2 separate regions of the Homo sapiens genome follow, and region 1 is linked to region 2. The links come from fine-mapping of genetic effects on gene expression. Tissue or cell type: whole blood. Region 2 holds a variant in brackets; the other region holds the start of a gene. All regions are shown on one strand. Distances are from middle to middle.

What was found. PIP is the estimated chance that this variant, and not a neighbour inherited with it, causes the effect.
Region 1: it holds the start of PVT1, and the variant in region 2 is fine-mapped to the expression of PVT1 in whole blood (INTERVAL, PIP above 0.99).

What each region holds. Positions count from the first base shown.
Region 1 is chr8:127,792,067-127,796,830 of GRCh38, reverse strand. It overlaps PVT1 (Pvt1 oncogene), which reads right to left and starts at 2,307. Exons shown (of 9, transcript NR_190187.1): 1 at 2,097-2,307. It overlaps MIR1204 (microRNA 1204), which reads right to left and starts at 869; the gene lies at 803-869. RefSeq lists enhancers at 832-1,171, 1,272-1,321, 1,043-1,614, 1,615-2,184, 3,327-3,897 and silencers at 2,302-2,461, 2,472-2,531, 2,552-2,601.
Region 2 is chr8:127,990,343-127,996,077 of GRCh38, reverse strand. All of the region lies in intron 4 of PVT1 (Pvt1 oncogene), which reads right to left. Among named protein-coding and RNA genes, the nearest start is that of MIR1206, 16 kb to the left of the region's middle. RefSeq lists enhancers at 2,782-3,281, 2,987-3,316, 3,282-3,783. The variant C/A (reference allele first, on the strand shown) is at 2,488.

The DNA of each region.
Region 1 (4,764 bases), 200 kb after region 2:
AAGGAAATGCAAAATAAAAAGGCCACACATCCAGAAGGGCCACCTGATATAAAACAAATAGCAAAGGGGCAGCCATCAGCAGGCCTGCCACTGCCTCTCCAGACGACCTGGACCGGCAACTATCCAAAGTCTTCCACTTCCCCCAGATATTCTGCCAATACTCTGCCCAAATGCAGGGCCACTCACACAAACAGGAGGAAAGAACAGGGTGTCTTATAGTCCAGGAGATCTCTTGACAAAGCTGCCAGAGAAACGTGTCCATCTTGGGCAGGCAGAAGGCCCAGGCATGGCAAACACAGGCTCCAGAATCCAGCCAGAGTGCCTGCCTACCGCTCAGGAGGCGGAAAAAAAAAACAACTAAAGAACAGGGAATTGATTTGATGTGGGCAGTGAGAATTCACCAGGTTTTCAGACCAGCAATCATATAAACTAGTGGGGATCAGATATGTCAGAACAGAGGGGAGAACTCCTCCTTTCCAGTGCAGAAAAGCTCCAGCCACAGAAACACAGCATGGAGGTGGCGAGGGGCGGGGGAAGGTGTTTAAGACAGAGGAAAAGGAAAGTTAATCAGAAAAAAAACAAAACAAAACAAAAACGGACTTCTATTTTTCAAGAGAAGCCGTTTATGCAAAAATTCTGCACTCAAGATAGATGAGGCAACAAGAATAAGCCACTCTTAACCAGGCAAAACAGCAACACAACCACTTAACAAATCCCTCTGGGAATTCAATGGGTACAGCATATACCCCACAGTCATACCCGTAAGTGGAATTCCAGTTGGGCCCTTGTGCCGAAGCTTTAGACCACGAGGCACGTCCTCACCTCCAAGATGTAACTCATCTCAAATAATGGAGACCAGGCCACGAGGTTTCTCCCAGACACGGATTCTGTATTTGTCCTTCTGCAGCTTCCGGGAAGGTTTTTCTCCTAATAAATCCTGTAGAAAGTTCCACTCAGGGTTCTGAGGATTGATACAACCCCCTTCTTGACTGATCAGAGCTTTAGAAAGATTCGCTATGACCACAGGACTGTGTCAAGTTGAACAAGTCTCAACTTGTCGCTGCCAGTATGCAAAATAGGTCTGAAACATCTTATAACAGACAACACAGCAGACACAGTCCCTGCATCCTCAGGGCCCCCGCCCACCCACCACACACAAACACATTTCTCTAGAGTTTTTTTTTCCTAGCAAGGAACTAGCCCCAGTAGCCAGGATTCACAGTGGTGGAGTGGGCGAGAGACAGGCTAACAGCCTCTCTCTGGAAAACCTAATACCAGAAAGGAAACACCAAAACCTCATCCTCTTGTCCCTAAATCCTTGCACGTGATTTCTTCTCCTCTCTAATGTTCTAGAAGGGCCTAAAGTCAGGAGCTTAGATGAACAGAAGAATCTTCCATGCCTGCAAACCACCAGGAAAAGGCATGAGGCATCCACACACAGACGCATGCAGCTTCATGGCTGTGCTTCCTGAAAGTCTACACCCAGAACCACAAACACTGGCATAAATAAGAGCACGTTAGCAAGAGAAGGCAAACCTAATTAAATCAACAGCCCAGCCAAGAAGAATGACCATGATGAGGGTTTAGGAGCACCCAACAAACCCTCACATGCGATGCAAAAACTGAGAAAGTCTCAAAACACGGAGTTACTGAGTTTTTGGAAATCACCTTCGCCCAGCCCTGAGGGGGTGTGAGAGGAAGCGGGGAGTGATGGTCAAAGGATGGAGGGAGGATCACACATTCACAGACCTCTAGTTTCGCCAGAGGGGCCTCCAAACCACATCATGGCTCCAAATCTGTTCTGACTGCAGAGGGGTCTATTTTTAGAAATTAGTTAATATGCCTTTGATCAAGTTCATAAATCCAGAATTGCCTCTATGCACCGGCCATTCGGTGTCATCCCCCTCCCCTCACCCTCCCCAAACGCCCAAACTCGCCACCAGTCTTGAGGCTGGTGATGAGGACAGTGCACGCCTAGCACACACATATTGGATTCCGAAAGCCCCTTTCCTCCGTCCGACTACTCACAGCGCATCCCTACTCAGGGCCAAGTCTCGAGAGTTTCCAGAAACGCAGGGGACAAAATTGGAACTTACTGGAGGGCAGATCTGGCCGTGTCTCCACAGGTCACAGGGACCGCCAACATCCTTTCCGCAAGGAAATCCACTGGAAGGTGCCGGGGGTCCCGGGGCACATCTTTGCTCGCAGCTCGTCGTCGCCCCTCCTCGTCCCGGCCGCCCCGAGCCCGCCCGGCCCGCGGGCCCATGTGCTCGGCCGCCACACGCGCTCTGCCCGGAGGAGCGCGGGGCTGGCGGGTTGCCCGTGACGTCACGGCGGCTCGCGCTCGGGCCTCGGGGGAGGGGGGAGGCGCGCGCGGCCCGGCCCGCCGCGTGCGTCCTCGGTCCCGGCGCTCCCGGCCTTCCCCAGGTCCCCGCCCGCCGCCCGGTGCGCCCCTCAGCCTGCTTCCCGGCAGCGCAGGGCACTGAGCCGGAGAGGGCCGCGCGCGGAGGCGGGGCGGGCTTGGGCGACTGCGGCCGCCAAGGGCCCAGACTGGGGGAGCGGAGGGTAGGCTCTGCCCTGGGCTGGGGGTCCTCGCTACAAGCGCGCCGGAGTCCCACCGGGCCGGAGGGAATCCCCGGTGATGCCAGCTCGCTTGTGCGCCGAGCTTTCCACGGTCTTTCCCTGAGCCCTCTTACCCTTCCCCACACCGTCCTGGAAGCAAGCGGTCTTCCCACTTTCCTGCTGAGGAAGGCGAGTTCAGTGAAATAGGAGGGCCAGAGATGCTCCGGGATAGGTGCAGTTCCCGCAGAAGACCGCCGACTGAGCTCCAGCTCCAGTGATCTGAGCGCCTCTTTGGGTACCACCCAGCATCCGCCGGCCTGGTGAGAAGGGCGCGCGCACCTTCTCGCCTCCTTCGACGTCTCCCGCTGTTTCCAGAAGCCGAGTTGCAAACCCGTGCAGAGGGCCAGCGGTCTGCGCAGCTCCCTCCACTCCGGGCAGAGTTGACCTACAGAGTGTGTTCAACGAGTCCCTTAAATGCCCAGTAGTTCCTCCAAAGGAGCAAGTGGACACTGGCCTCCCATGTGGGATGTGGTTATCTTGTTCTATCTGCATAAACCCGAGACTGGACAGATGTAAGAGCTGCCCCTGTTCAGTTCAAAGTTTATTTTATTTATTTATTTATTTATTTATTTATTTATTTATTTAGAGATGAAGTTTCACTCTGTCACCCAGGCTGGAGTGCAGTGGCCCGATCATGGCTCACTGCAACCTCCGCCTGCCTGGTTCAAGCGATTCTCCTGCCTCAGCCTCCGGAGTAGCTGGGATCACAGGCGCGCGCCACCACGCCCAGCTAATTTTTGTAATTTTAGCAGAGACAAGGTTTCACCATGTTGGCCAGGCTGGTCTCGAACTCCGAACCTGAGATGATCCACTCGCTTCGGCCTCCCAAATTGCTGGGATTACAGGCGTGAGCCACCACGCCAGCGCCCGTCCAGTTCAACGTCTACTGAGCACTTAAGGGGAGTCAGGCACCCAGCTAGGCAATGGGGTGGGGGTTACTCATGGACCCTAGAAGGACGTCACAAACCAGCAAAAATTGGACACACAAATGGGTGGTATCAATATTACGGAACAGAAGGTTGCCCCTCTTCTCCCCTGCCGGCTACCCTACATCCTACTCACTCCAACCTACCCGGAGGCTCCTCCCTCTTTCTGTGTAGTGTTTCATCACATCTCTTCCCGTGGCGGCTTCTCAACGCAAATGTTCTTATTTGAAAAAGAAAAAACAATTACTCAGTTGATGCTCCTGTTCTGCCTGTTTCACAGATTCATTTACACTCATGGGCATCTCTTTTGTGCCTGGCTCCTTGCCAGGAGCTGGACAAGTCTCCGCTTTGTGCCTGGCTCTCTGTGAGGGGCTGGACAGGTGTCTGTTTTGTGCCTGGCTCTCTGTGAGGGGCTAGACAGGTGTCTGTTTTGTGCCCGGCTCTGAGAGGGACTGGGCAGGTGCCTGAGCTGCAGTTGGCATCTAGTTGTCATCCATCTTTTAAAATATAAAAAGAAGATGATGAGAAACCTCTGCATCTATACATCATGCGATAGGAGCTGTGAGACCTTAATCCTTTCACTGCTTAATCATTTTTTCCAGAAACCAAAGGCTGTGACCTTGAGGAAGCCAGTGTCCTCCTGGGGGATGCTGGTGGGCTATGAGAGGACCAGCTTCTAATGGCAGACGTCTCTGTCCATGTCCTGACAGTTGATGCCCAGTCCCTTCTGCATGGAAAATCTCCCCTGGCTGAAAAGACACTTTCACCCAGGACTCACTCAACTTTGACCTTGATGCTGTTTGCCCTCTCTGGGTCTCCAGCTCTCATGCACTAATCTTAGATTCACATTTTCCTTTTTATTAATTTCTTTTTTAGAATTAAAACATTTTTTCAGTAAAAATACAAAGAAAAAATAATATTTTAATATTCCTACCATCCAAAATAAACATTTTGGTATATCTGCTTTTGTTTTGTTTTGTTTGTTTGTTTGTTTGTTTGTTTGTTTGTTTTTAAATGGAGTCTTGCTGTGTTACCGGGCTTGAATGCAGCAGCTCAATCTCGGCTCACTGCAACCTCCACCTCCTGGGTTTAAGCGATTCCCCTGCCTCAGCCTCCCATGTAGCTGGGACTACAGGCGTGCGCCACCATGCCCTGCTAATTTTTTGTATTTTAATAGAGACGGGGTTTCACCATGTTGGCCAGGATGGTCTCGATC
Region 2 (5,735 bases):
GCAAGCTCAGAGGTCCTTGAGGGAGGGAGGAGAAGGTGTCTGCTTTGGGGAATGGCAATAAGAGGTATGTTGGGATGGAGATACCCAAATGTGTAGCACTTATACCGATTTAGCAAATGGTCCTCTCATTAGCAAAAGCTTCTAAACATTAGCCTTAAGTTTAAAAAAAAAAAGGACATTTGAAATTATGCAAAAGCCCAGAGCACCAATATGCGCTTCACATACGTTCCGCAGGAAGATTCCTTCATTTGCAAACTGGAGTATATTACGTAATCATTTCCATTTCCTGGCAGGTTGTGAAGAGTAAATGACATCATATAATGTAAAGTGCTTGAAACACCATGAATAATACATTTGAGCTATTACTATTTTTACCATGATTACTGGTAGATTAAAAGCAGTCTCTTCATGGCCATCTTGATTACTACTAGTACTAACACGACCATCACCGCAAACACTACTACTACTATAAGGATAGTACTTTATTAGCGGTGCTTAATAGAATCTATTATAATTCTCAATACTTAGCATATTTCAGGAGGAAAACTGACTGACGGACTGATATAATGCACAATTAAAGAAATGAACAAAGAAATGGATAGATTCCTATAATGTGGGGGGTGTATCTTAAAAGAAAAGCAGTCCAATAGGTTTCAAAGAGCAAAACCAGGAGTCAAGAGCTGTCTCTAATCCCAGGAGCCGGATGCTGTGAACACAGGAGTGTTCAATAAATACCTAACTGATGTCTGAGCAAGGAAGAGACAAAGAATGACAACAGTCAATTGGGCTTAGCTTAGATAAACACTCAAAGCCAGGATACAGACAGAACAGGACAAGAGTGGCTCTTACAGTCACTTGATTCAGGGTCCTTGTTTTAATGATGGGGCTGTGAAGGATCAAAGGGGTCAGCTGGGGCTCAACACTCAAAGGGCAGCTTTGGGCCAAGTCAATCAAACCAGCCTGGTGAGCTGAGATGCACGTTACCCAGTAAATACAGGTATTGGGATAGACTGTGTCTCTGCAGTGTGATGGTTAATTTTGTGTGTCAACTTGACTGGGCCACAGGATTTCCAGAGAGCTGGTTAAACAGCATTTCTGAGTATGTCCAGATGAGATTATCACTTCAACCAGGAGACTGAGTAAAGCAGATGGTCCTCTTCAATGTGGGTTGGGCCTCATTCAACCCACTGAAGGCCTGAATAGAACAGAAAGGCACAGGAAGGTTGAATTTCATCTCTGCCTGATTGCTTGTTCTGGGACATCGATCTTCTCCTGCCCTTGGCATTCCTGGTCCTCAGGCCTTCGAATCTGGACTGGAATCTACACTACAGGTTCTCCAGCCCTCTGCCCTTTGTGACACGACAGCTGTTTCCTAGGTCTCCAGCCTGCAGGTGGCAAATCACAGGACCCCTCTGGGTCCATAATTGCATGAGCCAATACCTTATAATAAATAAATCTCCTAGATATAGATATAAATATCAAGGTAGATATTGATATAGACATGGATACGCATCTATCTTCATGTTCTATTGGTCCTGTTTCTCTGGAAAGCCCTGACTAATACATCTGTATATTTTGAAGGCTTTAAAGAAGGACAAAGCTCTTTTTTATCCACTCTGTTAACTCCTCATAGCCTATCTCAGCAACTGACTCATAACAGGAAAGTGGACAAGGGCAGAGAGGACAGGAGGGAATGGCTACCTCCTGCCAGTCACCACACAAGGTGCTGGGGAGGTGGGTTCAGTGAGACCCAAGGCTCTGCTCCCAGGGAAAGTTGGAGAGATCGTGTTTCCAGGCGAGATCCCAAACACAGCCCCCATCAGCAGAACCCGTCCCACAAGAGGCACTGTAGAGAGAAAGATCCTCATTTTCAGAAGAAACAGAGCTGAAAGAAGGGACTAGGAGTGGGCAGAGGACAATGGTGGAGAAGGAGAGACAGTTGGAGAGGGGGTGAGGAGCAGCACAAGAGAGTACAGAGAATGTGCTGGGAGAACAGGCAGGCACAGGGCAGGTTTAAGGGATTCAGAAGACTCATGTCCTGATTTGGGAGCCACCATCCATGAGCAGGGGGGATCTCAAGCAATGCAATTGCTCCAAGCCTCCAGTCCCTTCATCTGTGAAATTCTGGCATCCATGAAGCTAGCTTCACTCCCTGTGATTCCTTCAGAGAAAGCACAGTGGCTTTTCTCCTTTATTCTAGGCACCCTGCACAGTGGCACACTGCAGGTTCTCGTTCGATATTTGTGCAATACAAGAAAGGAGAAAGGATGAGAAATCACTTTATAAACTGTAAAGTCCTGGGCAGATGACAGGGCTGCCTTTGTTTCTTAAGGCAGACTGGGGAGCTTCTGAAAGGGGAATACTTTCTTCCTCACTTTGCCTTTCCAGCCCCAAGTCAGTGTCCTGAATTCAGTTAACTCAAGAAAACGTTCTCCAAGCATGTCCTATGTGCTGTCAAAATGCCAAAAGCTGGAAGCAGACAGAGAA[C/A]AAGACCTAGACCCTGCAATCCAGGGGAGAAGAGCTGATGTTCAGGAAAGTGAAATGCTGCTTCTGGAGACAGAATAAATCCCCCCGGAGAGAGGATAAGAATTGACTATTCTAAAGCCCAGCCTTTCCTCAAAACCATAATGATAATCATCACCCATAGTGACAGCTACGGTGGGTGGTCACCTGTGTGGCTGGCTGCTAGATGAGCTGGACTGAAAGAGACTCAGAAATGCTTTCGTTTTCAGGTGGTGGCGCAGCCACTGCTCCCCGACTGGGCCTAGTGCATTGCAGACATCACGGAGGAAGCTCCGTGTCTGTGGGTGTGACGGTGTATGATCAGTGAAAGATGTTATCAGAAGAAAAAAAGTTGGGCACATTTTCCCCTAGACTTACTAATCCTTCCTCTGCAATTACCCTCATGTTTTGACATTAATTGAACTCTGTCTTTATTACTAAAAATAAACTCCAGGGCAATTGCAATGCACCAAAAACCTCAGTATGAAACCACAAGAAACAGTAATAGAGAAATGGGCCAATACCAGAGGTGTTTTGAGAAGATGTTTCTGTTTCAAGCGTAGAGTTCCGAGTGGGCCAGGAGTTCTTTAAAATCCTGTGGACACCAAGTACAGGAAGCAATCTTTACACACATACCTTGTGGCGAAAGACCGGTGCTGGCTTGTATCCCTTGACAGGGAAGCAGGAGCCTGCTGATGCGGTGTCACCAAAGGCCAGGAGGCCAGCATGACCAGTGTGGCAGTATCAGGCAGGGAGCCAGCAGATGACACCAGGGGAAGGCAAGGCCAGAAGAGGAGTCCAAAAGAGCAAAGTGAAGGTCTAAAGGGAAGAAGCCCATCCTGTCTGCATATCCAGGGAGCAGGGCCAGGGGTGAGCAAGAATGACACTGAGAGGGTCAGGAGCTAGACAGGTCAGGAGCTGGAAGGAGAAACAAACAGGCTCCTGTTCATTGCCCATTTCCTCGGGCAAGGTTCCGTCATCCTCACAACCAGACCAAGTGGCTTCTGGTCCATGATGTGGCTGGGAAAATTGAAGTCTGGCTGGGTGTGTGGTGTGTGCCTATAGTACTAGCTACTCAGGAGACTGAGGTGGGAGGATTGCTTAAGCCCAGGGATTGGAGGCCAGCCTGGGCCACATAGCTAAGACCCTGTCTTTAAAAAAATAAAAGAAAAAAATTTGTACGTGTGTTTTGAGACAGAGTCTTGCTCTGTTGCCCAGGCTGGAGTGCAGTGGCACAATCTTGGCTAACTACAACTCTGCCTCCCAGTTTCAAGTGACTCTTGTGCCTAAGCCTCCCAAGTAGCTAGGATTACAGGCGTGTGCCACCATGCCTGGCTAATCTTTGTATTTTTAATAGAGACAGGGTTTCACCATGTTGGCCAGGCTGGTCTCGAACTCCTGGCCTCAAGTGATTAGCCCACCTCAGCCTCCCAAAATGCTGGAATTACAGGCGTGAGCCACTGTGCCTGGCAAGAAATTTTTTTCCTTTTTTTTTTTTTTTGTTTTAAGAAAGAGAGAAGTTTGAAAAGCTGTAAAAGACTTGCCCAGAGTCAAATAGGCAGTGGGAAGTGGAGCCTGGGGTAGACCCTAAGTGTCTGACTCCGTGTTCCTGGTGCCTTTGCTGCACAGCAGGCAACAGTCCCGACTCATGGGTGGGAAAGGTGAGGATGCCCTCCTATTGGTGTGCGTCCCAGCCAGGCTGATTTCTAGACAGGTACAGACAGGCAGGCTCCCAGTGTGAGAAGTGCCTTTAGGACAAGTAGAACTGCACACATAGATGCAAATGCCTGGGCCTTTCTTCAGGTTCTGTCATAGAACAGACTGCCTGAGGCCATGCTCAGGACTGCGGGCCTCAGAAACCCAGCACTTGCCCCTGCTCTGTCTTTCTGCTCCCAGCAGCTGAATTCTAGGGAAATGTCTCTCCGTCACCCCACCCCGAGACAGACCTGCCAAGCTTCTGGCTTTCAGATTCTCTGCCACATGACTGAGGTCCCATCAGCCCTTTTCCCCAATATGAGAATAGCTTGTTCCAGCCCTCCAGGTGCAGCAGGGCATGGGGATCAGCTGGAAAGGCTGCTACACCTGTATGCTCTCCTGCTCCCTAAGCCTGCCTCAGAAGCATGGGCTCCCAAGACATAATTCAGTGACTGTCCCTGAGGGTCAAAAAGAGCTACGAGGCCAAGGCGGGCAGATCACAAGGTCAGGAGATCAAGACTATCCTGGCTAACACAGTGAAACCCCGTCTCTAATAAAAATACAAAAAAAAGTAGCCAGGCGTGGTGGTGGGCACCTGTAGTCCCAGCTACTCAAGAGGCTGAGGCAGGAGAATGGCGTGAACCCGGGAGGTGGAGCTTACAGTGAGCCGAGATTGCGCCACTGCACTCCAGCCTGGGTGACAGAGCAAGATTCCGTCTCAAAAAAAAAAAAAAAAAAAAGAAAGAAAAGAAAAAAAAGAGCTACGTAGGGCTCCCAAGGAAGACTTGTCAGCTGTAGACATACATTGCAGTAGCAGAAGTGAGAAATTCAACAATGATACGAAAATGAATGCGTAATATGAATGCACAAAGGTGCTGAGCTCTAAACAATGGAAAGGATTTTTAATTACTAAACAGCAGCTCAGCTCCCAGTATGCTTTATTCACAAGCATCTTTCAAGAGTCACGAGAGGCAGCACCTGCTCCAGGAAGCCTCCCGGCATGGAGAAAATCCCCTCCACCATCCTCACAGACACCTAGGGAGTATGTAGTATCCTATGTGTGCCAGTATCCCCACCTTGACTGAAGGGCAAGGCCTCATGCTCTTCACCTCTGCATGCCACAGGAATGCTGACTATCACAGCAGATTTGAAACGCAAATGCGCTTTTGAAAATTTAAGGCACAATACAAAAGATGAAGATGACATATGTAGCACAACAGAAGTACAGTTCTCTGCTATGCTCTCAGTTCTGACTTCTCTGTCTTCTCACCAGTCCACAGCTTCTCACCCACCTTTCCACCCTTGCATAGCTTTCAAATTCATGATAGGAATCATGTCAGTTTCCTTTTCATCATGTCATTTATTCTTTCCAACATCTTACTTAAAAAAAATTGCAACTGACCTCATTCTTTCCTCTGAACCTTTAAAAACTTTCTTCTTTTGGTTACTTCTCTATCTCTTTTTCTCTCTCCTTTCAATTACTCATTCATTTGTTGTTTCACCCTCGGTCAGGCACTATGCCAGATCCTGTGATGTGT